Linked DNA regions of Homo sapiens. The protein of the gene in region 1 purifies or fractionates together with the protein of each later gene. This does not show direct contact. Each region holds a gene or a part of one and is shown in the gene's direction. Other genes may lie near its edges. The genes, in order: KCTD17, ACAD11, CDC42BPA and PLD1.

Region 1 (7,814 bases):
ACAGGGCTATCCGGGGGCTAGGGGATCACGCAGGGCTATCCGGGGGCTAGGGGATACACAGGGCTAGGGCTCATCCAGGGGATAGGGGATCTGAGAGGAGACTTACTAGCTGTGTGACACTGAGAAAGTGACCTAACCCCTCTGTGTCTGCATGCCCCCATCTGTGAAATGGGGGACCATAGCACCCACCTCACCGAGCTGTCATGAGGATAAAAGGAGTTAATAGTGCAGCATGGAGCTCAGTTCCTGGCCGGAGGATGTGGGATGCAGTGCTAGCTGTCTGTCACCTGCAGGGCTCCGCCCAGGGCACTGGGGATAATTCTCGTAATCAGGCAGCTGCACTCCCTGACCTCCTGCTCTGTGTTTGGTCCTGTGTGGGCACCGGGGACAGAGGGCAGATCAGAAATGTGAGCCCCATCTTAGCCATTTCAGGCTGCAATCATGAAGTAACATAGATTGGGTGGCTTATGAAAATCAGAAATTTATTTCTCTTGGTCCTAGAGGCTAGAAACCCGAGATCGGGGCACTGTGGCAGGTTCTGGTGAGGACTTTCTTCCGGATTGCAGACTGCTGACTTCTCGTTGTGTCCTCACATGGCAGAAAGAGAGGGAGCTAGCCCTCGCCCGCCCCTTCTCGAGAGCTTGTTTGGAGGTTCTAGCAGGGGAGCGCAGCTACTCACATACCCTTGACCAAAGTCCGGTCCTCCTCTATCGGGGGTGGTCGCCCCCTTCGATGGAGCTCACAGCTTCGGGAGGGACACACCTGGAGCAGTGAGGGAGGAAGGGGACACACATCTAGCCAGCCAGATCAGCTAAATCAACCCTGGTGATCAGTGGAGTGACAGATGTCCCCGCCAGATCGCCCTCACATCCAATTAGCCTTTCTTATAAGAAGACTGATCCTACCCTGGGGACTCTACCCCCATGATCTCATTACCTCCCCTCCTAATCCCATCACAGTTTTCAGCAGGTGGATTTTTGGGGAACACACACATTCTGCTCATAATGAGCTCTGTCCCCAGGGAGCCCAGAGGCCAGTCAAGGAAAGGGCCCAAAGGTCCCCTGCCTTCTGGGAGCCTAGGGGAGTCGAAACAGCTGCAAGCTCATCGCTTCACTGGTGGGCTGACTTCTTCATCTCCCAGATTAACTTAACTGTAAGATGGGGACAGTAATGCCTGCTCTCCTCATATCCCTGGACTTGTGATGAGCTCGTGCAGGGTGTTGCAAACTGTAAGGTGAGGCAGTTGGGGGAATGCATGGACACAAGGGTATGTGCTTACAGTGGGGAGACATGGGCTCTGGAGTCTGCAGCGCTTGAGTTCCCTCTGGCACTTACCAGCTGTGTGACCTTGGACAAGCTGCTTCTCTTTGGGAGCCTCAGTTTTCCCAGTTGTTCAATGCAGATGATGAAAGTACCTCCTTCTAGTTCTGAGAATTCAAAAATGTAATGCACCTGGCACTTAGAATGTGCTTAATAAATAGGAGCACATAATCAGGGGTCAGGCAAGGCCCTGCTCATGGTGACATTCTGGGGATCAGTCCCAATGACCCTGCTGTCTCTTGATAGCCCTAAAGCTGCCCCAGACGGTGGCCTGGCAGGTACCCCTGGGTCACCGCACTCAGCACAGCAGAGCTGTGTGGCAGCCCCTCAGCCCCTTCCACAGGAAGTGTGGGATCCAAGGAAAGAAATGCTCCCTCTTACTTGACCCCTGAACTCACAGACACTCAGCTCACCCTCAGGGCGGGTGATCAGAGCGAGAGGTGGGTTTCGGGGTGGAGGGAACAAGAGGAGAATGGGGCATGGAGGCAGAAGGAGTGACCTGGGATCTGTTCTGTCTGTGCCAGGGGTCCTGGAGGAAGCCGAGTTCTACAACATCGGCCCGCTGATCCGCATCATCAAAGACCGGATGGAAGAGAAGGACTACACGGTCACCCAGGTCGGGAGCAGGGGCAGCACACACGGCCAGGGCAGGGGCCAGTGGGGAGAGAGAGGCTGAGAGACGGGGCGGGAAGCAGAGGAGGTTGGGAGAGACAGGACCAGTGTTTGTCATGGGGAGGCCGAGCTGGCCTGTAAGGAGAGGCATGGTTGGGCTGACAGGCTGCCCAGCACAGCCCCAGACTCGGAGACGGACACTGGGGTTCAGTCCCTGTCTCAGCCCCATTTGCTGTGTGTTGGGCCAGGCTCGCCCTCTCCGGACCTTGATTTTCTCTTATGGGATAGAGAGGGGTGGGAATGGCACACCCATCCCTTCCTCATAGGCAGAAGGGGGTCAGTGTGGAGGTACAGGGTGCCCTGCAGAGGAAAATGCAGGATTAGCAAATTGTGCCTTTTGTGGCATCAGATGGTCGCCTGGTGGGCTCGGCACAGGCTGTTGGGGCTGGCGTTTGTGACCTTGGAGCCTGGGCCTCCCTGGCCAGTCTGCAGGAGGAGGGAAAGAGATTTTCCGCCTACTCTGGGGGATGTGTGAGGGTTGGGGGACAGGTAGTGAGGAACCATTTCTCAGGCCCAGGGGATTAAAGAGGGGAGGCTCCGTGTCTCCTTGAGGGCCTGACTCCTTGAGGGTGACCCAGAATGTTCCCTAAGCCCCACCCATGTTCTTTCTTGAATTACCCGTGTTCCGGTTCTGTCTCCTTCACCCTTGAGCTGGGTGACCTTGGGCAAGTAACTGGACCTCTCTGAGCCTCAATGGAAAGTCCCGTAATGCCTAGGATTCTTGGAAGGATTAAGTGAGATGGTGCCTGGTAAATGCCTGGTGAGGAGCAGGTGCTCAGAGCATGGCTGCCTCCCCCCAACCACCTCTTCTTTCTCTCCCTCTCTTCTTCTTTGGGTATGTTGCGGGGGTGGTGGCAGCAGGTGCTCATGCCCCTCCTGGGGTGCCTGGTGCTCCCACAGGTGCCCTCTATGTGACCCTTCTGCCCACAGGTCCCACCCAAGCACGTGTACCGCGTGCTGCAGTGCCAGGAGGAGGAGCTCACGCAAATGGTCTCCACCATGTCTGATGGCTGGCGCTTCGAGCAGGTGCGCTGGGGACAGGGGCGTGCCACCAGGACAACCCTGGGACCTCCTAGCCTCTGACCAAGCAGGCCCCTCCCTTCCTGCAGCCCCAGCCTTGGGTTCCCCACCACAGTCTCCCCCAACCCCAGGGTTCTTCTGAAATCAAATTAAACAAGGTTAGGAGAGACCACACTTGGTGGCAGGTTGACCGAGAGAGAGGATAGGAGCCCCAGTGGCCATAGGACAGCACGGGGTGTCCTTGTTGGTGGGAGTCCTCACAGCAACTGGGTGGTGATCTATCTGGTGGCATGAGTGAGTCTGTGGCCCCCGAAGGACAGCTCAGGTGCAAGGAGACCAGATCCACATAGGTGAGTGGAGTCCACATTGAGTCAGTACCTCTTAGAACTCAGAGTCAGCATCATGCGATCATAGCAGTTCCTGACACAGTTTTCAGGGTCTCCGCAGGGGACATGCCCAGTGGCCAGCATTGCAACATGCAGGGGAGCCCAAAGCAGTGCCTTCCCATGAGGTCTTTATGGTGAACGGTGGTTCCTCCCAGTCCAGATGCAGTTTACCCATCGGGAGATCCTTATCCCGAGGGACTTTATCCCTAGTCATGCAGCTGACCTCCCACCTTTCAGGTTTCCAGAGGAGCAGAGCCAGAAAGTGAGCCCAGGGTCAAAAGTGCCTTTAGAGAAGGAGAGGGGGTTGGCTAGCCTTTCTCCACGCCCACCCACACGTTCCCTGGCACATGGAGACTGCAAGGCAGAAGGTCGGAGCCCCCAGGATGGCCTGGAGGGATGGAAGAATGGGCCTAGTGCAGAGCCAGAGGCCTGGCTTCACCTCTAGGCCTTGCCACAGACATGCCTGCCACCTTGGGCAAGTTACATCTCCTGTGCGGGACCCAGTTCCCTCATCGGTGAAGTGGGCTAACAGTACCTCCTCTGTAGGACTCTTGTGAGATTAGAAGGGCCATCAGTAAAGCTTACAGCCCTCCGTAGGACTCCCTATGTTGGCATTAGTGTCATGCAAATCATTAGAAATCCATATTGAAGTCTGCAACACTCAGAGAGGACTTGGGATCCCCGATGCCATTCCCTGCTCCACCCCTTCCTAGCTGTGAGGCCTTCAGCAGGCCTGAGATTCTCTTCAGGGTCCCTGAGAGCTGAATGAGACTCATCACCTGGAAGAACTTTCTTATTTCTTAGCCAGAAGGGCTCTGTGGGCGTGGTTATTCTAGGGACCCTGGAACAAGGGCAGGGCCACTCTGAGAGCCTCTGGGTGTCTTTGGCAATTGCACAGGCTCTCAGAGGCTGAGCAAGCAGGCCAGGGACCATTGGTCATTTGCCCTTTGGTCTCAGGAGTGGACCACCTGTCGTCCCACCTCTGCTTCCAGGAGTGAAGGGAATATTCTGTGGGGCTCCACCTTGCCAATGCCACCCTGCAACCTTGTCCTGGGGCTGTGTCAGCCACATCTGGAATGGGGGACAGCCGCCCTTTAGAGGCCTCCGCCTGCATTTAGAAAAGGGCCCCCTGGCTCTGGGGCTAGGCTGGAGGTGGTGGTGGGGACAGCGGTAATGCTGCCACCCTCCACCAGGGATCGGGCCAGCCAAGCCAGGCGGAGGGGCTGGTCCTGGGGCACAGACCACAGGCACAGGTTGCAAGGGGGAAGACTCCACCTTCCTGCCCAGAGGTGCCCTCTACAAACCCAGGAGTGGGCCCGACAAGCCGCAAGATTAGGACCTGAGCTGGTATCTTGATTTGAGTGCCGAGGTCTGTCGTATCCTGCCCCACGGCCCCCAACACCAACCTGCATTTTTCTCCCCATGCTCCGCCCCTCTAGCTGGTGAACATCGGCTCCTCCTACAACTACGGCAGCGAGGACCAGGCAGAGTTCCTGTGTGTGGTGTCCAAGGAGCTCCACAGCACCCCAAACGGGCTGAGCTCAGAGTCCAGCCGCAAAACCAAGGTGAGCCCACCCGCCTCAGCCTGTGTCCGGAGAAGTCTCCTGTCTCCCTCCACCCTCCCCGCCTGTCCCGCCCCTGCGCCTGCACCATCCCTCCACCTCTCTCCCGCCACCGCCCATGCACAACCCCATGCTCACAGCCACCGCCATCCATCCCATGCCACCTGCCGTTACCCAGGCCCAGGCTGGGAGCAGTGAAATGAGAGCATCCCCAGGGTGCAGCCGGCGTGGACTCAGAGGCTACATGAAGGGGGCCGCTTAGTGGCCACTGGGCACTGTGGCATGGACTAGGGGTCAGGGCACAGTGTGGCACTCTCTGTGTGACTTAGGACAGGGCTTGTCCTCTCCCAGCACCTTTGCTGCACTCTCTGAAGTGAGAGGGGAGGATCACATACTCTTTGTAGTGCCTTGGAGCCTGGAACTTCTGGGATCCCAAATGGCCGTTTATTCCCCAGGGACAGGTGCATGTCCCCAGCTGGCCTGAGCCAGGATGAGGAAGCCACCGCTGTAAATCCTGCCCCTTTCCCAGGCCCCCTCCTTGGCTGCTCTGCAGGATAGGGGCAGCCTGGTGGCTGCCAGTCCTGTGTGTCCGCCTGGCCTGTTGAGGCAGCCTCCTGAGAGCACCCTGGCAGCATCCACTGTACCACTGTGGGGAGAGGGCTGAGCGGGGGTCCTGCCATCCTGGACCCAGTGCTGTGGGAAGTCCCAAGGGCCTTCGCAGAGCCACAGAGCAGGCGTGAACCAGGCTGGGAAGAAGGCAGGCTGCTCCTCCTGGGGCCCAACCCCACACAGTGGAGGCTTACCTCTGGCTTCCTGTCTATCTGTCTGCCTCCCTGTCCTGCTGTGACGCACCCTGCCTGCCCACCCACCCCCACCACTGCCAGGGCTGACGCTGCCCTGCAAGGGTGCAGAGCGAGACTGCTCCTTCTGCCTCTTTGGGCCAAAGCCCCTGGACCTGGGGTGTCAGAGACTGGCTGGCATCCCAGATCTGGGTGGTGTCTGCCCTGGGGCTTCCTTGGCCACATTTCTACTGAGGAGCAGTCTTTCCAAACAAGGCCTTCCCAGGCACCCCTCAGGGATACCCCAGTCCCACACCCTCCCTGTTCTGCTTCATCCCCTCCCTCCAGCCTCGCTCTATGTAACAGCAGCCAGGCTGACCCCGGAGCATGCCCACAGCATCCCATCCTCAGCTGCTTTCCCCAGGCCCTCCCCAAGCTGCCCAGGGGACCGGAGAAGATGCCCCCAGCTTCTGTGGCTGGAGCCCTCCCCTCTCCTGAGGTCCCTTTCACCTTGCCTGAGACCGGGTCTTTGGGGATAGCCAGCAGGCCCTGGCCCCTCTGTTAGTGTCTCCACTCTTTCTTCCCTGGGTCCGCCGGCTGGTTCACAGAGCACGGAGGAGCAGCTGGAGGAGCAGCAGCAGCAGGAGGAGGAGGTGGAGGAGGTGGAGGTGGAACAGGTGCAGGTGGAGGCAGATGCACAGGAGAAAGGTGCAGCCAACCCCCAGGAGGATGATTGCTAAGCAAAGCCGGAGCCTCCCGCCCACTCCTTGCTGGAGCCAGCTGCAGAACCGGGGGCCCCGGGGCTGCTGGGGGGGCACCAGGGTTAGCTCAGCCACTTGCCTGGCGCCTCACCCGCATAACCATCCCTTCTCTCACTTTCTCTTTGCAGCCCAGTCATCTCAGGATCCCGCTAACCTTTTCTCCCTCCCACCACTGCCTCCTCCTCCGCTTCCCGCTGGAGGTCCTGCCTCATCTTCATCCACCTCTTCTTCCTCCTGGATCTCATCTGCACCCTGCCTCTTCCCTCTCTGCCCCTGTCCGGGTTTTCTCTCTGCCTGCTCACGCCTCCATCCCGGGTCTGCCCTGGTCCCAGCCTCCCGTGCCCTCCACCCAGGCCCCCTGGCCCTGCATCCCAGAGCGTCCTGCCTGCCGCCTCCTGCGCCCCTTCTGGTACCTCCTGCCTCCCAGCCTGGGGAGGAGGGGCGCAGCTGCACCTCCTCTGTGCCCACTAACCCTGCCGGGCACCTCTGAGACTGGGCCCTGGCTGCAGGCCCTGCCCCCCCTCCTCTCCTCCCGGCCTCCTCCTCACGTTTCCTCCTTGCAGGTTCCCGTCCGCACCCTCTCAGACCTGAGGCTGAGCTTGCAGTGAGGGCTTCTCCTCGGCCCCTCGCCCGCCCCCAGAGCTGCCATCCCTGGTTTGTAGCTTGGCGGTGCTGGAGGGAGGGGTGGAGCGAGGAGGGTGCTCATCTCTTGATCCTTGGACTTGAGCCGAGCTTTCGGCTGATTATCTCCACCCACCAAAGTTTCTCATCCGACCTTGGCCTTGGGGGTGAGGCTCTGAGAGGAGAAGAAAGTTAGGGAGTGGGAACTTTCCTACCAGCCCATCAGCACCAGAGCCAGGCTGGTGGGGAGGGAGGGACCGCTGAAGCCAGAGGCCCTGGCCAAGTCCCTGCACATCCAGGAGCTCCTGTGTCACTGCCTTGTGGCATCCCCTATTTCTGTGGGGATGGGGAGGACAGGCCACTTTTGGATACCCTTGGCCCATGAAGTGTCAGCCAGAGTGGCTTAAGGATTGCAGAGTGGCAGAAAAAGCCCTGGCCATGTGCCCACAAGCCCCCTATCCCACTCTTTTCTGCCTGCTCTGTGACCTTGGGCAAGTCACTGTCCCTCTCTGGGCCACAATTGCCTCTAAAATTGGGACAGACAGCTGCTCCCTGTGGCTTCTTTCGCCTGGGGCATCAGTGCCTCTCCCAGCCCTGAGCAACCCCCATCCCACCCCCTTCAGAGTCTTGGCAGAATCTGGCCTCTGTAGGTGGCCGCCACCGAGCCCAAGACGGGGCATGGGGCTCCTGGAT
Region 2 (7,814 bases), on another chromosome or scaffold:
TAACTATTGCCTTCACATTATCAGAGCCAGGATTAAGTCTCATGCAGGTGCTCATCTTCTTATCCTAATTAAATTACATTTTTTAGTAGTGGTCTAATTTATAATCATAGTGATTACACCAAGATTACTATTAGGGAAGTTATTACTATTATCCTCTGGAGTTTGTGTTGATACTGTTTTACAGTTGTTTTCTAGCCTTAAGATTAGCTCATAAGTAGTTATTAAATTTAATTACAATTAAATCAGTTTCTCTGATTTTTAATGATTCATCATCCTATTTAGATTGATAGAGAATTTAAAGTCCAGAAAGCCTTGTTTTCAATTGGATTCCCCGTTCCCAAGCCTATACTGTACTGCAGTGATACTTCTGTCATTGGAACAGAATTTTACGTAATGGAACATGTGCAGGTAAATTAACACTTAATCTTATTTTGTTGCTTTTACTTTTAATTATGAAGTTAATTAAGATGTTTTATTATGATACTTAATAAATGATATAGTTTGTTATTTAACATTTTAGGTAATTAGATTGCATTGCAAAGGTTTACAATTTTGTTCAAATTTGAGCACTTACAAAGGGAGGGATGGAATAGACAAGAAACAAATTTAGTAATTAGGGGGTATTGACTTATTCTTAAATTTTCCTCTAGGTGTCAGTAAAGAGCTATCTGTAATGGCAATAACCAAATTGTCCATAAGGTAGCAGGGAAAACAGACTCCACATAGGTCAAGCCATTAAGAACAATAAATTCAAAATGTGTTTTAAATTTTTTCTGTAAAATAGTTGAGAGTAGTTTTGATGTTTATATTCATCTTGGCATATCCTTTTATTTTCCCTTTGGCATGTATACTCTAATATTAAATATGTTTCACAAATGAATGTTTTTCTAGTATATTCGACAAAGTATTGATTATACACATTTAAATAATCTGTTGTAATCACTTCCATAGGGTCGAATCTTCCGTGATTTAACAATTCCTGGACTTAGCCCAGCAGAACGTTCAGCCATATATGTGGCCACGGTAGAAACATTGGCTCAGTTACATTCCTTGAATATACAGTCACTGCAGCTGGAAGGATATGGTATAGGTGCTGGGTACTGCAAAAGACAGGTAATGCATCCACATTAATAGCTATTTTTTTCAAGTTCTTGTAAATAATATACCTTATTAGTCAACAAAAAAAGCTATTATTGTATAGTTTTCTGAAGCTTGGCCATGACTTTTAACATTGTCCTTCAGAATGACTAGTTTTTAGTATAAAATTATCTTATGTTTTTATATTAGGTTTTGTTCAGCAAAATCTTCTGTTTTAGACTCTTAATTTTCCAATACTTTTAACTATACAGTTTTTTCTTCTTCTTCTTCTTCTTCTTCTTCTTCTTCCTCTTCCTCTTCCTCTTCCTCTTCCTCTTCTTCCTCCTCTTCTTCCTCCTCTTCTTCCTCTTCTTCCTCCTCTTCTTCCTCCTCTTCTTCCTCCTCTTCTTCTTCTTCTTCTTCTTCTTCTTCTTCTTCTTCTTCTTCATCATCATCATCATTTTGAGACAGAGTCTCCCTCTGTTGCCCAGGCTGGAGTGCAGTGGTGCAATCTCTGCTCACTGCAAGCTCCACCTCCCAGGTTCACGCCATTCTCCTACCTCAGCCTCCCGAGCAGCTGGGACTACAGGCTCCCGCCATCACGCCCTGCTAATTTTTTTGTATTTTTAGTAGACATGGGGTTTCACCGTGTTAGCCAGGATGGTCTCAATCTCCTGACCTCGTGATCCGCCCGCCTCAGCCTCCCAAAGTGCTGGAATTACAGGCGTGAGCCACCATGCCCGGCTTACAGTTTTTTCTTTCTCAATTGGACTAGCAGACATTTATTAAGCTTGACTGTGTGTTTAATACCTGCTGAGTACTGTGTTAAATATCAAGAAAAATATACAATAGGTTCTTCCCCACAGGAACTTATGGTCATTTTTGAGAGACCTGTACATGCATGTCATTCACGAAACCTGAAAATGGTATAAAAGAGTGTAAAATCTAGTGGTAAATTGTTTGATACTCACCATGATTCAAAGGGTGGAAGTTGGGATGCCCTTGCTTATATAGAGAAAGCTTCCTGGGAGAGATATCTTATAATGAGTATTTAAGGAAAGATAAAATTTGGAGTGATGGAGATCATTTTAAATTAAAGGAAAGCAATACTAGATATATATGGGGCTGCTTTCCTTTGTAAGCATATCATTTTGTGGGGGTTAAGGAAGAGAAAAGGGAACTAAAGTTTAGAGTGTACTCACTATATGCTAGGTCCTACATGGCAGAGTGAGTTGTCGGCCTCTCTTTTTTGATCTTTACAACAACTCTAAGATATAGGTATTATTACTCCCATTTTGCAGATGAAGAAAGGGAGGCTTGCATCAATCAAGTAATACACAAGTAAGTGGCTTAGATATAATTTAAACCCAGGTTGATATGACTAGATAAGACCAAGTAAAGGTCTTTGCTCTATTGCACTAAGTTGAGCAAAGATACCTCGGGAAATGGAGATAAAAAAGCAAATAAACAATATGGTCCCACCTGTTGGAGGACTTTACGAGTAAGTTGATTTGTTTGCATTCAATTCTAAGAACAATAGAAGATCTTTACACTATTCATACCTGTAAAATATTTAGAAAATTCTGTGGGTAATAAGAAAGAGTATTAAAATGAAAAGTAGGCTGGGCGCGGTGGCTGAAGCTTGTAATCCCAGGACTTTGGAAGGCCAAGGCAGGCGGATCACGAAGTCAGGAGTTCGAGACCAGCTTGACCAATATGGTGAAACTCCGTCTCTACTAAAAATACAAAAATTAGCTGGGTGTGGTGGTATGCATCTGTAATCCCAGCTACTTAGGAGGCTGAGGCAGGAGAATCACTTGAACCTGGGAGGTGGAGGTAGCACTCCAGCCTGGGCAACAGAGCGAGACTCTGTCTCAAAAAAAAAAAAAGTAAATGTCTTCTTTTTTCTTCTAGTCCCCATATTCCCTTTTTCAGGGGTTACTTATTTCTCGTGACCCTTTCCAGAGATTATCTATGCCTATATATTTGTGTGTGTGTGTGTGTGTGTGAGAGAGAGTGTGTGTGTGCGTGTGTGTGTTTGTATGCATTCTTTTTTTTTCTTCTACAAAGTAGTTGCTGAATAAAGACTAGAACCCATATCTCTTGATCCCTAGGCCAGTATTTTTCTCTTGATAAAAAACTAGGTAAGTAAAATGGAACTATATGGAAAAGAGACTTAAATGTTTAAGGTTTAGGCTGATTTGAGTGTTTTAGGATGACAGGAGTATCACCAGCATGGGTCTTAAGTATTTAGGAGTAAAACAGCATTTGAATTTTGTTTTAATTTTAGAATTGCTAGATCCTACATTCCAGTTTCAGCTTTACCATTTTTCTTATTTATATGTCTTTAGGTATCAACCTGGACAAAGCAATATCAAGCTGCAGCTCATCAGGACATCCCTGCCATGCAACAGCTATCGGAGTGGCTAATGAAGAACTTGCCCGATAATGACAATGAAGAGAATTTGATTCATGGAGATTTCAGACTAGATAACATAGTTTTCCACCCTAAAGAGGTACAGTTAGCTATGTTTACAATTAATTGAGTAGGTCTGTTTTGTGACACAGTACTAAGTAAATGCTCCCCCCAGAGCACTGAGGGAGCCCAACCCACTCCCTGTTCCCCTACAGCTCAGGACTGTCGTCACCACTCAAAATTTTTAGAAAGGAGTCCTGCAGATTTTCCAGCATAAGTTAGCTGCCTACCTTTGAGACTGGTTCTAATCCCAAGTGGTATCTGGTTTACTGCTTAAAAGGATTTGGGAATTTTACATGCATGATGCTGTTTTCTTCAAATAAGTTTTCATCTACTAGTTACAATATTTAGCTTATCCATGTTCTTGCTGTTTTTTCTGGTTCATTTATACTTCTTTGGGGTTTTTAGCCCTATCTCATGAAGAATTTATTATTTGTTTATTATAAACTCTGAGAATAGAGAATTCCAAAAGCTTCTTGAGGCTTCAAAAGAATTACATGAGATTAATATAACCTTGCTCAATGTAAATGTGCATACTGTATTCTTTATAAAGAGTATAAACAAATGAAAGCTGTAATCCTCCACTGAGCACCTACAATGAGGCCTAGGATTACAGTATAGTAGGAATGAATCCTGCTTCTGAGAGGAGGATTTTCTGGGTTCATTAGTTTCTTAGAATGCTAAGATGTTTTAGGGCAGGAAGAGCTAGTGGCACTGATGAATTCTGAATTCTAACCTTGTTAATTATCTACCCTGAGATTAGAAAAATTAAATATGCTAATTTATAATCTAGATAATTATAAAAGCATATGCCTGAAAACATAGCAGGATCTGGCCTGTATTTGATCTGTGTCATTTAATTAATATTTTAGTCGAGTCTACATAATATTGAGTCTCTATAGTAGATAACAAATTAGAACCCACTAGACTTGGAGTTCCTTTAAAACAATGACTGTATCTTATTCATCTTTATATTGCAGGTGCTTATATGATTCTGATGAATCTATGTTGAAGGGATTAATTTTAGTTAATTATTCACTAGCAACTATTTCCATCTCATAAATTTATGCTTAACTTTCATTCCCTAGCAGTGTGAACTTAAAGCATGTTATTCAATCTCTCTCTGTGCCTCTATTTTTATTTTAACTTTTTGTTTTGAAATAATTAGAGTCCCCAAAAAAGTTGTAACAGTGTTATAGTACAGAGAAGTCCTGTGTATCCATCATCCAAATTCTGCAAAATGGATATTATACAACTATGGTACATTATCAAAGCCAGGAAATTGACATTGTGTACCTTTTAAAATTGAAAAAAAAAATTCTGAGTTGCTGGGCAGCTAAAATGAAACAGTCAATGTGGAGCAACTAGCTGGTACCTGGCACATCAATGATGCTCAGTTTATTTCAGGTACCCTCATTTTTCCATTTTTTCCCCTTCATTTTTCTCTCTGACTTTTCTTAGACTACTTGTCAAGCTTCTTCAGAAAAATATTAGGGTATAAGTAAATGCTTCATAATATGTACGAAAACCTAAACAGTGGTTGTAGGGGATAGAATTATAGGAGACATAATTGTACATTTCTGTAATGTTTAGGGTTTGATGTTTTTTGGTTTTTATTTTTAAAACAACAGCATGTTTAATTTTTGTCATCAGAAAACACAACAATTAAGAAAGAAGAATAAACAATTTTAAATGACAAACCTTCCAGGAATGTGTGGAGTAAGCCAGTAAAGGAAACTACAGGATATGGCAAAACGAAATTATTTTCTGTTACTTATTTACAAAGTATTTAAAGCATGTTTGGGCAAGTATTTCAGTAGCACAATAGGCTCACTGCAATGTTGAAAAGAAATCCAGTTTTCCTGGAAAATGTTGATTTTCCAAATATAAATTTTACCAGTAGAGAAATGTTTAAGATCTTGGAGTTTAATGTAAAATCTGCATATTGTCATTTCAACTTGAAAAATATATTTAATTAGAAACATCCATTGGAACTTGTCAACTTCAGTGATCTAGAAATTGAAACCCCTTATTTTTGACCTCACCCTCTTTACCTTCTGTTCTTTTATTTCTCTGCATCTTCCCTGAGACACTGCAAATTTGATTGCTGTTAATTTAGAATCCATAAGCCCTTCATGACTTCACTTGACTTCTTATCCTACATAAGCCACATGGTCATAATCAGTCATCTCAAAAACTACCTTTAGTATCAATTTCATTAATAATTTTTTGACTATAGATGTATGCAAGTAATGTAAGAATTATAAAGTGTCCTGACCTTAGGTTACTTATTATTCTAGAATCTTCCCACCCTGACTTTATATCATCATTATTATTATTATTTTACTTTTTATTTTTTCTAATAACCCTACAGGGGATGTCCATCACCCCTTGACTTTAACCAGTTTCTAGCCCTAAACTTGAATCCTCATATTTTTGCTGCAGAATAAAGTCGTGAAGTAAGGTTAATTGGATCTGGGACATTTTTATGCCACATGATTTTATCTAGGCTGTAACTTCATCTCTTAGTAAAACCTGTGACATTTAAAAAATGGCTTTTCTAAATCTTTTCCCTTCTTCTCAAACTCTCACATTTCTTGTCCCATCTCGGTTCCCACTCTCAGCATGTGGTCTTGTCTTCTACCTAACTCATCTTTGTCCTTTCAGTCATTTTCCAGCATAGCCTGCTTTCTAGGAATTACACCATGCCCCTCAAAGTTCTCTTTATATTGTTGAAGACATTTTCGTCCGCTACACAATATCACCTGTATGCAGATTGATGGGTGATATTTTTCTTTAGCCTCATTGCCAAGAAAATTTGTCCCTCTTGAGCAGCTGGTTTGTTTTTGACCTGCATACACTATAAAGATTGTGACTGACCATGCTTCACACTTTATTTTACCCGCTATAAAATTCAAAGCAAATTTTACTACCCACACTAACAACTATGCATGTCCTATCACATTCAATTATGTGTAATAACCTTACTCCTAGCTTCATCTTTTCATTACAAATTCTATTATTTTCTTCCCTGCCTTCTTCATCTACTGTTTGTTCTGTTGGATTGTATGTATTTTTTGTTTGTTTCGAATGCCAATACACATACATATTAATAAAATTCAATGGTGTAAAAAGTATACATAAAATGAATCTCTTTATAAAGAAGATAATTTAAAAAACTAAAAGCTTTCTGTTGAGCTGAGGTTTCAGAAAAACTATCAAAAATAATTTTACTAATAAGTTCCCTAGCAGCAGTAAGACGAACTAGTAAATGTCCAGATCAACCACTAAAAGTTATGTTGAGCTTTTAATAACTCTCAACACAAACAGGCATCAACAGGACTCTAATTAGCTATTGCTAATTAATTTGCACTAATTTATGCAATTTGATGAGCCATCAGCTTTTCTCACTGGCTGTTGTTTTATAGCTTTGTGTTTTTACCCCAAAAATGGTTCAGATATTCTGAAAAGTAACTCCAGAGAAGTTTCCCAATTGTATTAAAAAAGAAAAGTAATCATTTATAGCATAAGTAAGTGCCTCATCTTTACTTTGGATGTTAAAAGCATAGATAACAAATAGAATGATGTAAGAGAAAAATGCATCCATCCTCTTCAGTAGTTTCACAAATCTAGCTAGTATAGTAATTTATAATACTTATAATATTATAAATTTATAGTATAATATAACCACAATAAAAGCTCTTATAAAGTCATAGAGAAAGGAGTGATCAATTTTTTTCCACAGTAACAATGGCAAAGTTTTGATTGCCTTGCTATATATGCCAAGCTCTGAACATATTCATCAAATAAATACATATTGGCCATCTGTTGTGTGCCAGGTTCTTTGCTAGAAACTCATACATGAACTATATGTGCTACCCGCCCATTTAATCTTCAAACTAACCCTGTGTAAGAGGTGTATATTATGGCTGAGAAAATTGAGGATTAGAGAGGTTAACTAACTTGTCCAGAGTTATACAGCCAGCAAATGGTAGAGCTAGGGTCTGAATACAGGCCTGTCTGATTCCAAAGCCCATATTTCCACACAAAGCTACAAGAATGTGTGTAAGTTTGCCAGAGGAGCAAGGGAGTGCAAGCACACACAGTTATATGGAGGCATGAAACCCAGTAACTCATATTACCCAAATGGGGTCTGCAGTTTTATGTAGCTTGGATAACTTGCCTAGAGTATTGCTGCAGCTGCCTCACTGCCCACCCCCCATAGTATATTGAAATCATAGTAGCCAGAGTGACCCTCTTA
Region 3 (8,435 bases), on another chromosome or scaffold:
ATTTATGACAAGTTTTTCAAACCATCATAGATAGTATTTTTGGCCTTAAGACTAATTGAGATCACCTAGGTAATGGGTGTAGCTAGAAAAGAGGTGAAGTTCTGAGCCCTGGGCCACTCCAGTATTTGAAGATCAAGAAGATAAGGATCATCCAGCGAAGGAGACTGAGAAAGAGTGGCCAGTGAGGTAGGAGAAAATCAGGAGAGTGCGGAAATTAAGTGAAGGAAAGTGTTTTAGTTAAGAGAAGTGATCAGCACTGTGAAATACTGTTAAAGCGGCAAATGAGATGCGGACTGAGGACTGCCTATTAACTTTGGTAATGTGGAAGTCACTGGCAATCTTGGCCAGAGCAATTTCCAGAGTGTGGTAACTGAATTCGTCAACTTTCACCTCCTTGGCTGCCAGCCTCTGTAGGTCCTGGGTGTGTCACCTCCACTCCCACCTCAGGACCGAAGGTTCACACTGGCTTAATTGGTTTGGTTTTGTCACCACACGTTGCAATACAGTCTTTATCAAATGTTTTCTGCTGATAGAATTTATGAAAGAATGCCACTTATCTTTGCAGTGTTCAAATTTGCTAAGTAGCTCTAATAGCCGACAATATCTGTATTATAATGTTTGATTCTAAACATATTTTGGAAAGTCCCATTTATAGTAGAGCTTTAGTGAGAGATTTTAAATGATAAATTTAAAGATAGGGCAAGATGGACAAGATCCATTGACAAGCAAGTGGAAACTATTAGTCTGTATACCTAAGTAAACCTGCCCTAATGAGGGTTGGATTGTTTTTTAACTTCTTGAGGGACAAAACAACAACAGCAACAACCAAAACAAAACAAAACAAAAAACAAATTTGAAAAGGAAAAGGTAAAAACTTCTCCTATGTTTAAATAATGCCACGTCAAAATCTACTTAATGGTTGTTCAGAGATAAAACATTTGTTTTATTGATTTTATTATAGTTTCGGTTAAACTATAACTGTGTTGATTATATGTGTGCAAATTCTGCCTGTTTGCTCTTGCATTCATTTCTTACCCATTGCCTGCTCTACTCTGTCTTTGGGGACCAGTCATGCAGCCTCCCTTTCAGAGGCTCCGTGTTAGCTTCAAATGACAGGAGATTTGTGGTAAGAGGATTCTCCTCCCCTCTCTCTGACTATGGCAGCCTCCCCTGTAGCATTTGCATCTCTTCTGTGGCTCCATCTCCCACCAGCCCTGGTTTTAGCTTCCACCAGCCTAGGGGTGGGAATAGCTTCCTGCTGCTGCCAAACTGGGTTACCTGACTTGCCCTGCATTTCCTCAGCTCTTCCACCATCCATGGAACCATGTGTCAGAATTAAGGTTTCTCTGGTTTTGGTCGGGCACAGTGGCTCACGCCTGTAATCCCAGCATTTGAGGCGGGAGGATCATTTGAGGTCAGGAGTTCAAGACCAGCCTGGCCAACATAGCCCTGTCACTACTAAAAATACAAGAAAATTAGCCAGATGTGGGCCAGGCGCGGTGGCTCACACCTGTAATCCCAGCACTTTGGGAGGCTGAGGCGGGCAGATCACAAGGTCAGGAGATCGAGACCATCCTGGCTAACACAGTGAAACCGCGTCTCTACTAAAAATACAAAAACTTAGCCAGGTGTGGTAGGGGGTGCCTGCAGTCCCAGCTACTTGGGAGGCTGCAGCAGGAGAATGGTGTGAACCCGGGAAGCAGAGCTTGCAGTGAGCTGAGATTGTGCCACTGCATTCCAGCCTGGGCAACAGAGCAAGACTTGTCTCAAAAAAAAAAAAAAAAAGAAAAGAAAATTAGCTGGATGTGATGGCATGTGCCTGTAGTCCCAGCTATTTGGGAGGCTGAGGCAGGAGAATCGCTTGAATCAGGGAGATGGAGGTTACAGTGAGCATGTGATCACGCCACTGCACTCCAGCCTGGGAGACAGAGTGAGACTTTGTCTCAAAAAAAAAGCTTTCTCTGGTTTAAATAAATAGGTGATTTCTGCTTTTTTGGTTGAACTCTGATATAATCATGTGCGTAGTTCTTTCTTTTGCCCTCATATCAACTTCTAATGCCCAAATATGTGAATTAACAACACATCCCACTTCTTCCTTGTTACAATAGGAAGGAAAAGTTGAGTTTATAGAACCTGCAGATTTTTTAGACCTCACTTGCTTTGTGATTAAAGCCATGGGCACTGGCATGAGACAGGCCTGGTGTTGACTTGTAGCTCCTGTGTCAATTACTAGTTGTGTGATCTTTCACAAGTTAAGATCTCTAAGCCTCAGCTTCTTCCATCGTCTGTGATATAGAGGTAATTTCCCTACTTCATATGGTTATGATGATTGAATAAAACATGAGCTCAAACTACCCAGGACAGTGTTTACAGGTTGTTAAGTGTTCTGTAAAGGAAGCAATTATTAATCAGAAAGTTTCTTTTTTATATACAAGCCCTTGCAGTTGATCTCACTCATGTCAGGAGCCTGACATGAAGACAGGACAGGCATTTGCTGGCATTTTATCCTGGGAGGGTACTAAGCCAAGTCATTCATTTGCAGGGTCAGGATGTGGCTAGGCTAAAAGGAGATGTGGTAAAACATCCTCAGTGTTGCTATACATTAAGCCCTACTGTGGCACGCACCTTGTTTTTGGCTCCGTTCTCCAGCAATGACCCTATAGTTATTCTGAAGTTAGATATACCAAGGTGAGAGTGAGGCTGACTGTTATAAATATTAATTGGTGGATTAATTCTCCTGCTTTTAGCCCTGAATTGGAGGATTAGTTGAAGAGAGCTTGTATTGGGGACTAGGCTTAATGATTTCTGTCCTGCCTTCTTCTTTCCACCTTCCTACCTTCTTGTCTTCTCCTGTCCTCTTTCTTTTCTGAATGGTCAGATTAATTCCCAGCATCTTCATAAAACATTCTCTGATTATTTCAAACAAATTGGGTGTTTGCAGTGGTATACATCTAATCTCCAGGCCCCCAAGCAGAATTTCACAAAGAAGACCTCCTCCAGACTATTTTTCCCCAAAGAATACCCTGCGAGGCAGCCTGTGGCACTCTTGTTTTGCAGGAACACTTCAAGCACTGTACAGCTGCTGGGCTGTGCCTTTCTTTGGCTTAAGACCGGTTTCATTAACAAGCATGTTCACACTTCAACCGGAACATTTAAAATAACACCCGCACAATGTGTTTAGTGTCTAGTTAATTATTAAGTCTCTGAGCTTGAATTATTCAAGCAAAATTGATTGGGTTCAAGCTCCTTCCTTCTCTTTGTGTGTGTGTTTTTTAAAATAAAAATAAATTCTGCTCTCTACTTTCTAAATAATGTGGAAAGGGTTATTTAGCAACCATCAATACCCTGGACTGTGGGTGGTACCCAAGCGCTAATAGAATAGGTAAAGAACTGACAGCTTGACTCTTTTGTTAAAAAAAAAAAAAGTATCTACATCTCATATACTTCCATTGTCAATTAGCATTTAGTGAGACCTAACATGTTTTAGGTTCTCCTTTAAACTTCTTTCTAGTTATTTGTAAGTTGGAAAAGCAGGTATCTTGGAGCCATTTCTTTAGTTAACCGTACTTGAAAAAGCAGAAGAAATTGCTTCCTTCTTTGCTACCGCATCTTATGGTCAAATGAAACTGTTAAAATTGGCTTCACCATTAAAATCCATGTTGTTGAAGAATGTTTGTTGAACTGAAAAAATGTCCATAATATATTGCTAATTGCAAGCAAGAGGCTATAAAACTCTTTTATTATGTATCATTTTTGTTAAAGTGCATAGGAAAAAGACTTGAATAATAAACACCAAAATATTGCTTATTATCTGTGTTAGGATTAAACTTTTCTACTACTTTTAGAATTAGACAACACACACCCATATAAAGATGTCATGGCTGGAAATGACTGACCTTTTGTTTGAATCTAAGTATCATTCATGTCAAGACCGCATTGAAAATAATGCTGTTCTTAAGCCAGGCAAGTGTAGACGTTGTAGATTTCATAAAAGATTCACACTATTTCATGAATCACAACTTGAATCGACTTCTGTTAGCCTTCATTTTACGTCTAGGCCCTCATTTCTAATTCTTCCTCAGCTTCCATATTATCAAGATGTAAGATGCAATTGTGGACATGAACATAGAAACACAACCGCCTCACAGGTGTGGGGAAGGAATATAAAATAATTGTATTTTAGAGAACGACCATAAAGGAGATGGCAATTTTGAGAGAAAGTAACAGAACTGCAATGACCTAGTTTTGTGGTGTTAATTTAAATGTGGCATCTTCCATGAGAATTTTATAAAGGGAGCTCTCCTAAAACCGAGATTCACAAAAACCTGGAAGGGCCCTACAGGGATCAGGTGCCCTAGCTATTCAGCGATTTGCCTTTGCTTCCCTAATTCCTGCATTGTGCCACTGGGTTACAAGTGTGTGTGCGCATGCACACAGGGGTGTAGGTTTGATGACAGTGGTGAACTGCCTTGACTGCCTTCACAGGCTGAATCCCCCGCAGGCAGTAACCATGGCTAGGGAAAAACAGGCAGCCGCGAGGACAGTTCCGGAGGAGACAACACCAGGCTCCCGTAGGGAAACTTTTGGGAATGGAGATGGGGGATTCCATCCTTTGCGTGCAGACCCAAGACTTCGATGGTAGCTCGGACAAGTCTGTCATTGTTTTTGTCCTGGGAAATGACACACGAAGTGCTGTAATTAGACACCTAAGAAACGATTACTCTGGAGTGTGCGCGAACCGAATCTGGGGGGCCGGTGGGGAGCAGGTAAGGGGCTGAAAGGCACCGTCTCCTCCAGCTCTGTCGGAAGCCTAAAGCCCTCTGCTTCTGGGCGCCCTTAACAAACGCGCCAGACAGGTGATGTCTCCGAGGACGAGCAGGAGCCCCCCTTCGCGATCTGCACCAGAAGCCTCGGGGAGCCGGGGCCACGGCGCGGCGGTGGCGCAGTTCCCAGCCTGCGCCCAGTCCCGCCGCAGCTCCCGGCGCGGCCCGGTCATCCCGCCTCCATATGCTCCGCCACCGCCGCCCGGGCCTCCCTCAGCCCTCCCGCAGCTCCGCATTCCACGCTGCGGCAGCCGCAGCCTCGCCGCCTAGGCAGTCCACACCCCTCCCCTCGGGCTGGCGCAGCCACTCGGGCCCCGAGCCCGCGCCCCCTTGGGGGCCTCCGCTGGGCGCGCCGGCCGGACCCCGCCCGGCTTGGCCGCCGGCTGGGGCTGAGGCTCGGGCAGGGCGGGGGCGGGGAGTGGAGGGCGTGTGCGCGCGCGTGTGCCGGGGCCGGGGGGCCAGGCCGCCATATTGGATCCAGACTCGTCCGCAAGCCTCCGCCTCTGTGCGGCGGGACTGGAGGAGCCTCGCTGAGCCCAGGGCGCGAGCGCGAGAGGAGAGGGAAGGCGGGGGAGGGCTGGAAGGGAGAGGAAGGGAGTGGTTGGGAGCCGGGCTGCCGCAGCCTCTAGTCTCCTCAGCCGCGGAAGCGACCCCTCCTCCTGCGCCGGGCCGCCTCCCTCCTCGCTGTGGAAAGATGCCCTTAGCCCAGGGGTGTGAAGAAGGGGGAGAAGTAGCTGCCAGAGCCGCCCGCGCCGCCGCCGCAGCTGCTGCTGCTTGTGTCCTTTGAATTCAGAGAAGCACCCCCCCGCCTGGGGCGTCGGGAGCCTCCGGCGCGGCGGCCCGGTGCGGGTGTCGGGGAGACCGGGCTCTCTGCCCGGCGCGGCGCGGCGCGGCTCGGCCCACGAGCGACCACCGACATGGAGTGGGCTCGGGCGGCCAAGTAGCCGCTTCTCCGGAGCCCGGTGCCAGTGCCGCCCGCAGCCCGCCTTCCACCCCCGGCCGCGCCGCCGGTCAGGCCCTAGGGTGAAGCCGGGAGGAAAATGAAGAGTTTTCACCGGAATCCGTTGAAAATAGGACTGACTGCAAAGCCTTAAAGAAAGAAGGACCTCGGGAGGAGAAACGAAAAGCCGCCTCCGGGCAAGACTTGGCGTGCTCCGAGCCGAGGGGCTGCTTCAGGGACCTCGCCCCCTCCCTTTCCCGCTGGAGAAATTGCCGCTGATGCATTATCCAAGTGGTGGTTGGGAGGATTTGCAGCAACATTTTTGGTTTTCCCTCCCCCTTCTATGCATTCTGTTTTTTTCCTCCCTTTTCTGTTTTTCTTCTTCCCGGGAAGTGAATTGCTGATGCAAATCGGACTTTATTCATTAATGATGCAACCGGATTCGTTTCAGGATTACGTTGCACGAGTTGAATTTTGAATGAAGGAGAAGAGTTTTTTTTTTTTTTTTTAAAGAAGTGTTGACTCTCTAGTTCGTTGTACTTTTAATTATTATTTTATTTAAATATACGACTTAATTGTATTCTTTTAAAAATGCATTAAGTATATATTTTATGGTAATTTACCCTCAAAATATATGTATATGGGTGAAATTGAAGACGCTTCAGTTAAGTGAGGTTACTGGTGTGTTGGATGTTTAATTCAGCACCAGCATTGCATGACAGTTGTTTGAATAACAAGTGGTTTATTTTTAAAACCATACCTTTTAAAATTTAGGTTCAGATAATAGTAAAAGTCATCATAATAATTTAAAGGAAAACCAGCAGAAATCGAAGCAAACATGTCTGGAGAAGTGCGTTTGAGGCAGTTGGAGCAGTTTATTTTGGACGGGCCCGCTCAGACCAATGGGCAGTGCTTCAGTGTGGAGACATTACTGGATATACTCATCTGCCTTTATGATGAATGCAATAATTCTCCATTGAGAAGAGAGAAGAACATTCTCGAATACCTAGAATGGGGTAAGTTTGTAATTTTTAAAGAAACTGTTAATCTTTAGCTGGTCATTATGATTTAATTGGTATAGAGAGTTATGAGTAAACTCTACTCCGTTCAAAGAAAAAATACAATAAAAAAACAGACACTAGTTATTCAAGATTTTCCGCTAGTTTTTGGTAAATATTTTCCCAGGAGTAGAATTGTGCTGCTCAATTGTTGCCTTGATTTAAGGCCTAGCTAATGTGGAACTTGGCTATGAAGAACTTATGTTTTTAGGTCAACAGTAAGAGATTTTAAATCAATTCTGTGATGGGCAAAAGTGGATTATTGGTTACAGTTGCCTAATACATGGCACTATAATAGTCCTTCATTTGAAAGGTATTTATTGGTGGAAACATTCAGACTATGGAAATTATTCTCAAAATAGGAGGAGATATTAAAATATCTGTGTTTGCCTTAGGTCAACAGAAAGCTGAAGGTGGTGATCAGTGGGTTTTATTTCATCTCTACATAGTACAAGGAAAGGAAACTGCTAAACATGGACTTTCCAAAAATTATGTTTGTAAGATTAAATGACATAGTTTAAAAATCTTGTGATAGTAGTTAGAGAATGTTTGGGGGCAGCTTCCACTTGAGAGTTAGATTTTACTCGAAAGTTAATTTAAATCTAAACTGGTTAGGTTTTTGGCTTCATTCTTCTAAATATAGATGTGATTTAGAAGACCTACTGTAGTGGAATAGATCAATGATGTGAGCAAACGCTCCATGACCTTCAAGCTTGAAGGCTTGGCTCAAGTTCTTCAGCGTCTGCTGTTACATACAGGGCACATTCTAAGGTCCAGAAGTTCACTGTTGCAATAAGCACGCATCGTCACCCAGATCTGTCTGTAGTAGTGGTACGTTGGCTTTTGAAGGATTTTGGCCAAATATGATTTTGTACCTTTGGAATACTAATCATTTTAGTTTGTTCTTATGCTAAGTTCTTATGCTAAAATATCTGTTCCCAAGTAAAACTTTATTTTCCTGAAGTAAAAGTCAAGTGCTGATTGTGTCTTTTTTTTTTTTTTTTTTTGGATTTGAAATTTATTCAAAGTTAGTTTCTCAGGTAAACCACTGATACAAGAATGTCTACACGTAATAACTTTAATTATTCAATTTGCCAGTATAAGAAGGTTTCTAGCAATGTGATGTCATAAGGTTTAAAAAAATATGTAAATGTGAATAGAATAACTTTTCAAAACAGACTGCCAGACTCATCCTGGGAATGTAAGAAATCTAAACCATCTTTCAAGTAACTTCTCACTTAAGAGTGAGACAATTTTGGCTTTGGTACTGGTTTTGTGAGTATACGTCTTTTATTTGTTGAATAAAGTATTTTGTAAAGCATATGTAGTTTTACATCCCATGTTTCACAAATTGAGAAATTCTGTAGTGTTAATTTTTTTTTTTAAGACTTAAAGGGTTTTGGTACTTTTAGAGTTGGAACTTGAGTTCTTAAGTTATGGTTCCTTAATGACACTCTAGTCTGTGATTTTTGTCATTTAGTATTCTTTCCTATCTGCGAAGCTATGGGAGAACTCTATGTACCAGTAGTAAATATAATTTTAAATGATTTATGATAAAGAGAAAACTGTATCCTCCATTGCCTTCTGATTATTAGAGTTTAGGTAAGTAGTTTT
Region 4 (7,746 bases), on another chromosome or scaffold:
CCAAACACCGCATGTTCTCACTCATAGGTGGGAACTGAACAATGAGAACACTTGGACCCAGGGCAGGGAATATCACACACCGAAGCTTGTCGTGGGGTGGGGGGCTGGGGGAGGGATAGCATTAGGAGAAATACCTTATGTAAATGATGAGTTAATGGGTGCAGCACACCAACACGGCACATGTATGCATATGTAACAAAACTGCATGTTGTGCACATGTACCCTAGAACTTAAAGTATAAAAAAAAAGGTTATGTAAACATTGAAAATACAGAAATATTTCAAAAAAGTCATTAGATAGGGGGAGTGGGATCCATTTGGGCTTGTTGGACATGAAAAAGCTTCACAGGGACTGGCTATGGGTGACTGAGAAGACTTATCTTTGGTATTGCAGGGGGAGCTGTAGGCGTCAGTGTGGGACCTTTATAGTCACATGCTAGGCAGCTCACAAGTCGACCGTTGCTGGAAAAAATGATGAAACATACAAATGGGCCACAGGAAGCTGAAATGAGGATACAGAAACACAATGCTCTGCACATCTTGGCAATATCTGCTGTGTTGCTGTGTTCCTCATTCTCTCTTGAGATTTTTGGTGTTAACCACTGTCATTTTTTTACAAAAAATTTGAGCCTCACTAATGACACTGTTCTGATCTTTCAGTGAGTCACTGTTATGGTGGTTGAAGTGATTTATGTCATCAGGTAACTGGGGATACAACATCTTGCTCTATACTCCATGTCTCTAGAGAAACATGTGCATTGGTTAATTAACATTAGCAATTAGATGTTTGCGAATGAATGAATGAAATGAGTAGTTGCTAATCCACAGACTGTCAGGTGGACTGAAGGGCACAGAAGTCATACAGATTATGTCAGTGAGGATTATTGGGGACAAATAATGAATGCAGACTTGCTCTCTGAAGGAAAAGGGCACCGGGGCCTCACAGAATCAAGACAAAGTGGAAGAACAGCAGGAACTAAGGAAGCAACAAAAAGATTTAAAAAAAAGACCCACAAAACCTAGGAAGTAAAAGTTTCCTAGGTTTTACTGGTCAGGGTAAAGCTGCTGATGGGCCGCTTCTGTCTCTGTTCAATAAGCTCAACCTCAAAGATCACCGGCTCCCTCATCCCCTGAGATTCAGTCCACCTGGCCTATAGGGTAAATGGAATGGTGGTGGGAATATGGAAGAAGGATCTGACCTTCACTTTTGAGGTTACTGCTTGAAATTGCTGTCTTGCCAGGCCTATGCCTATTTGGGGAGAGGTAATTTTCTATAAGAAAATGGAACTGTCAGAAAAGATGATAGATGTTGGTATCCCAAAATGACTAGATGATCTGGATGGCAGTGCTTGTATCAAATGTACCACAAGGGAAAATCTGGGGGAGCACCATTTGTATGTCACTTTGATAAAATAGTTCTGTTTCTGTTGAAAGCATTATTGCAAATTAACAAGAAACTAATTTACCATAGAAAAAGAACAGGTAATGGACATGAATAGATCATTTTCAGTAAATGGTACAAATAATAACATGAAAAAATCGTGTTCAGCATTACTGATTATAAAAAAGTTGATTAAAACAAGATATGATTTTGATTCGTGACATTTTCAGGTTATAAGCAAGGCAATATTTAATACTGGAGGGTATTTTTGCAGCATCACACAGCACCTTAAAAATGTTTCTAAATGCTGATCCAGTATTTCTACTTTTAGGAATCTATCCTAAGGATGTAGAGATCTTGACAAAGATGATGCAACGTAGTGTTCATTCTAGCATGATTTGTAAACTGCAATAAAGTCTGAAAATATCCTAAAACATTTGATAAATGATTGTAATATTCTTCAACCACAGAAATGATATCTTAAAGAAAGTTTAATAACAGTAAAAAATAGTCAATTTATAAATACTTAGTGAGATAAGGAAGATTCTAAACTCTGTAAAGCATGGTGTTAATTTTATAACAAACCTCTGGGCATAGAAAAAATAAGGAAATATACTAAATGCTAATAGAGAGTGTGTGTGTGGGAGTTATAGGTGATTTTAATTAAAAATGTTTTTCTGTGGTCTCTAAAACATAGATGTAAAATTTTTTTTCTAAAATATAGATGTTAAAATTATAAAAATGAACATATATGTTTTTATTCTCAGAAGAAAATAGAACAATTAAAAGGATTTCAAATACCACTTTGACAAAAATGTCAAGTGCATATTGAGATGAATGTATAGCATGATTACTTAGTCACTGTTTCTTGACATCTTTGAAGATATGAAAGAGTTGGAAAGAAAAATCACAAAATCTCTCAGGAAAATAAAATAATTACATACAAAATCATACTACTTCTAAAATTCATGTTTGGGAGTCCATAAGCTTCAGTTCATCTCTAAACAACATATGGCATTTCCTATTTTATTCCTCTATCCCAGGGAGGCAGAAATTCAGTTATTGTAAGGGCACTTAGATAATTTTCTTTCTTTCTTTCTTTCTTTTTTTTTTTTGAGACAGAGTCTTGCTGTGTCACCAGGCTGGAATGCAGTGGTGCAATCTCAACTCACAGCAACCTCCTCCTCCCAGGTTCAAATAATCCTCCTGCCTCAGCCTCCCGAATAGCTTCGATTACAGGAACCTGCCTCCACCTCCGGCTAATTTTTGTATTTTTAGTAGAGCCGGGGTTTCGCCATGTGGCCCAGACTGGTCTTGAGCTCCTGACCTCAGGTAATCAACGCGCTTCGGCCTCCCAAAGTGTTGGGATTACAGGTGTGAGCCACTGCGCTTGGCCTTGATAATTTTATTTCTAATTAGATTTAGTAGAAAGACCTATTGTTGGAGGCAAGTGCCAAATGTTTTCATAGTGACACTTAAGAATTTGGGATGCAATTTTATAGACTGCTGCTTCTCAACCAAAAGCATTATAATTTCTAAAGACAAGCTTGTAAGAATGCAGTTACGTGTGTGCACAAGACTTATCAGACCATCTGTGACTAATAAAGCTTGAGAAAGAGGGGAGGAGAGAGGGTATTCTGCCTTCCAGTAACATGCTTGTCTGAAACTTACTAAACTCCTCTTAGGCAATACTCTGCTCAGAGAGTCATGTGTTTAATTGTAAAAATCTGTCAGTATCATAGGATTCAAAAGACATCAATCATTTATGTCAACAAGGAAAGAGTGAGGGCTGTGTGACTCTTCTATCATTAGGAAAAGATGTGCTCAAGAGACAAAAATGTGGTCTAAGGAGGGCTGAGCAACTGTAGGTTACAGGAAAACTGAGTTCCAGACTATAATTTGGCCCCCCTCCCCTAATTTGGACTGGTATATTATATTTTTCATTTCATGCAATGCCATGTGTGCAGTAAGACATTATGTAACTTGGTCAGTCGCAGTTGTGTAATATCCACTAAATGCTTTAAAGTGGCTGACGTTATTAGCAGTTTGGTGCATGGGGAGGCCATTGCTTCCCCTGGCTTTGGCGGGATGCAATATCGTGTAATGAGGTTGGAACTGGCCTATATTCAAAATTACATTCCCAAAGGGCTGCTATTCAAGCCACATGACAACTGGTTCTCTTTTTCTTAAGACTTTATTCTAAGTGGACTGAAAACAGCAAAATTGCCGTGTTTGAACGGTTCCATAGGTGGAATGGGTCTTTTCCCTGTTTTGCTCCCAATTTATTATTTTATGCTAAGATTTCTGAATTATAACCAGTTTTAGAGACATCGGGACACAAATTCCCGTCCCCCTCCATCTAAGCTGTGTGACCTCGGGCTGGTTCTGAGCCTTCATTTCCTTACCTGTAAATTGGCGATAACACTTCCCTAAGGAGGTGCAAGAAGGCTTATAAAGACTCCAGCAAAGCTCCAGTCTCTTAATTATGTCACCTCAGGCAAGTTATTTAGCCGTTTGATTTGCTGATTCCTTACTTATAAGTTGGACCAGTTGTGGCTACTATCCGCAGTAGTCGAAGAATAGATATCATAGGCAAAGCTCCGGGAAAGGTGGCTGGTCCTTGGCGGCTCGAGAGGACCTGATAATGGTCCTAATAGCGAGCATTCCCTAGGGTGATGCGGTCGAGTTATGAAACTTTGGGAAAAGAGAACAAGGAACGCGGGCGATCAGAGGCCCAGTCGCGAGACCTGCCCCGCTGGGGCCTCCAGCCGGCACCGCGACGCCCCGGGACCTGGCACCGCCTCGCTCCACCCCTGCGAATCCGGGGCGAATCCGGGCGGAGAGTTCCTGCCGGCCGCGCAGCGCAGAGCCCCCTCCGGCCCGCCCTCTCTCCCTCCCTCCCGCTGAGCTCCAGCTGTGCCAGAGGCACCCGAGCCCTGAGAGTCCGCCGCCAACGCGCAGGTGCTAGCGGCCCCTTCGCCCTGCAGGTAGGAGCCGCGCCGAGACCCGGATCACCGGGCGCCCGTGGGAGCCGGGTTTCCACTGCCCTCGCCCTCCGTCCCTCCTCCGCCCAACCTGGGCAGCTGGCCGCTCCCCGCCCAACTTGGACGGGATTTCAGCGAGTGAGTCGGCGGCGGACTCCCTAGCGATCCCCAAGGGCCTCCCTCGCACGCCTTCGGGTGGAATTCCTGCAGGGTGAAAGCTGACAACTCTGGCACGCACTTTTGCCGCGCGGGCGGCTGCCTGGAGCGCAGAGCCGCGCAGGCTCAGGCTGAAGCCCAGGCGTCCTCTGCAGGATGCACCGCCTCGCCGCCACAGGGCTTCGGGTGCAGTGTGTGTGGTGTCCCCAGGTCATCCGGGCGCCCTTGGTTCGGGTGCGCGGTGGCATGACTGGGCTGGTGGGGGCGATGGGACCGGCATCCCGTACCAACCAGGAAGTGCCGCGTCCCAAGGCTTCGAGCCCAGCCCGCAGAGCACGGTCCTGGGGGTGTGATCACAGCTGCTGACCGCGGCTCCCGCCGTGTGATGTGACCACTCGGAGGTGGGGCGAGGGGGCCGGGGGCCAGCAGCAGGGAGTGTGTAAAAGGTCTTCTTCCTCACAATACGATTGAAGGTGTTTGGGACGTAGGGCTCAGATCCAGGAGTGCCGTCCTCCAAGCCTTCCATAGGATTTTGTGACGCCCTTGAGAACCGCCCTTGTAGACTCAGTCCTGAACTACCGCCACGCCTGTATTTGCTCCTCCTCATCTCGGATTATTGCTTTCTTTACTTCCTCTGTGAAGCACTAAATACTAGTAGCTTTTTAAGAACAGACCACAACAGTTTCTTCGTTTGACCATTACTAAGTCTGCCTCCAAAATGGGGAGTTCCGTTAACTTTATCAGCCAGCCCTGCCAATTTTAGTTAAGATAAGCCTTCGTGGGCCTCCAAAGGCCTCTGAGAGACTAGGTACCCAGAGACCTCTGAGGTATGTTAAATGGTTTAGTTCGTGGTGGTGCAATGAAAACTTAAAGAAGGAAAGGAATCTGCAATTTGAACTGTTAACAGACCCCACATTTACACACTGCCTATTTGAATAAGAATCTCTTTCAGTATTAAATGTTTTGTGACACACAAATGAATTTGTACACAGTCTTTTAGCTTGAATTTGTAGACAGCCTTTAAATGTTGTTTGGGGATCTTTGGACTAATTGTATAAGCGCTCAGTCTGGCTTCTCAAGAACCAGTACAGTTAACAATCCATATAAAAAGTTGGAGTGCTGCCTGGGCGCGGTGACTCACGCCTGTAATCCCAGCACTTTGGGAGGCTGAGGCGGGCAGATCACCTGAGGTCAGGAGTTTGAGACCAGCCTGGCCAACATGGTGAAACCCCGCCTCTACTAAAAATACAAAAATTAGCCAGGCGTGGTGGCACACGCCTGTAATCCCAGCCACTCGGGAGGCTGAGGCAGGAGAATCGCTTGAACCCGGGAGGCGGAGGTTGCAGTGAGCCGAGATGGAGCCATTGCACGCCAGCCTGGGCGACAGGGCAAGAATCTGTCTCAAAAAAAAAAAAAAAAAAAAAAAAAAATTGAATGCTAAGGCTTTGAGGAAAAAGTGTCTTTACAATGTTTGTCCCTGATGACAGAATAATTATGAACTATAGTAAGCGCTGTACAATGCTCATTTAGGTTTGTAGACTTACTTATAACCAGGTAGTGGGGAACCCGGCTTCTTGGAAGTTGTATGTTTACTTAGTGTTTCTTAATTAAAATTACAAATTTTATTTACCTTTAACTCTTATAGGTAACTTTTATTTTTGTTACAAAGGAAAAGTAGGACTGTCATTATTATTATTATTATTATTTTTTGAGACGGAGTCTCGCTCTGTCGCCCAGGCTGGAGTGCAGTGGCGCGATCTCGGCTCACTGCAAGCTCCACCTCCCGGGTTCACGCCATTCTCCTGCCTCAGCCTCCTGAGTAGCTGGGAAAACAGGCGCCTGCTGCCACGCCCGGTTGATTTTTTGTATTTTTAGTAGAGACGGGGTTTCACCGTGTTAGCCAGGATGGTCTCGATTTCCTGACCTCGTGATCCGCCCGCCTCGGCCTCCCAAAGTGCTGGGATTACAGGCGTGAGCCACTGCACCCGACCCTATTTTTTTTTTTTAATAATTTGAAATTTTATTTTAGATACAGGGGGTACATGTGCAGGTTTGTTACATGGACATACAGCATGCAGCTGAGGTTGGGGGTACAACTGGTCCCGTCACCCAGGTGGTGAGCATAGTACCTGATAATTTTTTAACTTTTGCTCTCCTTCCTCCCTCCCACGTCTAGTAGTTCCCAGTGTCTATTGTTGCCGTCTCTATATCCATAAGTACCCAATGTTTACCTTCCACTTATTAGTGAAAACATGCAATGTTTGATTTTCTGTTCCTGCATTAATTTGCTTAGGATAATGACCTCCATCCGCATCCATGTTTCTACAAAGGACACGATTGTGTTACTTTTTATGGCTGCATGGTATTCTATGATGCATATGGACCACATTTTCTCTTATCCGGTCCATAGTTGATGGGCATCTAGGCTGACTCCATGTCTTTGCTATTGTGACTAGTGCTGTGGTGAACATATGAATTTGTGTGTGTTTTTGGTAGAACAACTTATTTTCTTTTGGATATATACCCAGTAATGGGGCTGCTGGGTTGAATGGTAGTTCCGTTTTGAGTTCTTTGAGAAATCTGCAACTGCTTTCCACAGTGACTGAACTAATTTACGTTCCAACCGACAGTGTATAAATGTTCTCTTACAGGATGTTTTTTTAAAAAATTTTTTTTCTCTTATAATTTCACTTTTGTTGTGGTAAAATATGTACAACATAAAATTTACCATTGTAGCCATTTTTAAGTGTACATGTAGTGGCATTAAATACATTCACATCGTTGTGCTACCGTCACCACCATCCATCCACAAGACTCTTCATCTTTCTTACAGGGTTTTAATAACATTTTAATGATAATGGTTGTGTTGCAGGCTTTAGTTTTATCACTAAGCAAGGTTTGAGTTCCTTCTCGTAGCTTTAGAGAAATGCACCTTTTAAACTTTTTTTTTTGAGACAGGGTCTCACTCTGTTGCCCAGGTTGGAGTGTAGTGGCACAACAGCCTTGACCTCCTAGGCTCAAGTGATACTCCCATCTCAGTTTCTGAGTAGCTGGAACTAGAGGTGCGCATCACCATCCTTGGCCAGTTTTGTTTGTATTTTTATAAAGATGGCGTCTCACTGTGTTGCTAGGGCTGGTCTTGAACAGCTGGGCTCCCGCAATCCTCCTACTTCGGCTTCCCAAAGTGCTGGATTACAGGCATGAGCTACCATACCCAGCTGAGAAA

The links.
Region 2: the proteins of KCTD17 (region 1) and ACAD11 purify together in Homo sapiens (affinity purification with mass spectrometry; 4 studies listed by BioGRID and IntAct, with this or other methods). This does not show direct contact.
Region 3: the proteins of KCTD17 (region 1) and CDC42BPA purify together in Homo sapiens (affinity purification with mass spectrometry; 4 studies listed by BioGRID and IntAct, with this or other methods). This does not show direct contact.
Region 4: the proteins of KCTD17 (region 1) and PLD1 purify together in Homo sapiens (affinity purification with mass spectrometry; 4 studies listed by BioGRID and IntAct, with this or other methods). This does not show direct contact.

What each region holds. Positions count from the first base shown.
Region 1 is NC_000022.11:37,054,476-37,062,289, forward strand, and holds part of KCTD17 (BTB/POZ domain-containing protein KCTD17), read left to right. Parts: intron 1-1,844; coding exon 1,845-1,936; intron 1,937-2,922; coding exon 2,923-3,018; intron 3,019-4,837; coding exon 4,838-4,963; intron 4,964-6,347; coding exon 6,348-6,447; intron 6,448-6,628; coding exon 6,629-6,700; coding exon of another isoform or gene 6,701-7,063; coding exon 7,064-7,154; coding exon of another isoform or gene 7,155-7,317; exon of another isoform or gene 7,318-7,814. UniProt on the Homo sapiens protein: Substrate-adapter for CUL3-RING ubiquitin ligase complexes which mediates the ubiquitination and subsequent proteasomal degradation of TCHP, a protein involved in ciliogenesis down-regulation.
Region 2 is NC_000003.12:132,635,271-132,643,084, reverse strand, and holds part of ACAD11 (acyl-CoA dehydrogenase family member 11), read left to right. Parts: intron 1-282; coding exon 283-408; intron 409-951; coding exon 952-1,113; intron 1,114-3,428; coding exon 3,429-3,593; intron 3,594-7,814. UniProt on the Homo sapiens protein: Acyl-CoA dehydrogenase, that exhibits maximal activity towards saturated C22-CoA.
Region 3 is NC_000001.11:227,315,349-227,323,783, reverse strand, and holds the start of CDC42BPA (serine/threonine-protein kinase MRCK alpha), read left to right. Parts: upstream 1-5,291; 5' UTR 5,292-6,601; coding exon 6,602-6,779; intron 6,780-8,435. UniProt on the Homo sapiens protein: Serine/threonine-protein kinase which is an important downstream effector of CDC42 and plays a role in the regulation of cytoskeleton reorganization and cell migration. Regulates actin cytoskeletal reorganization via phosphorylation of PPP1R12C and MYL9/MLC2.
Region 4 is NC_000003.12:171,807,020-171,814,765, reverse strand, and holds the start of PLD1 (phospholipase D1), read left to right. Parts: upstream 1-4,282; 5' UTR 4,283-4,367; intron 4,368-7,746. UniProt on the Homo sapiens protein: Function as phospholipase selective for phosphatidylcholine. Implicated as a critical step in numerous cellular pathways, including signal transduction, membrane trafficking, and the regulation of mitosis.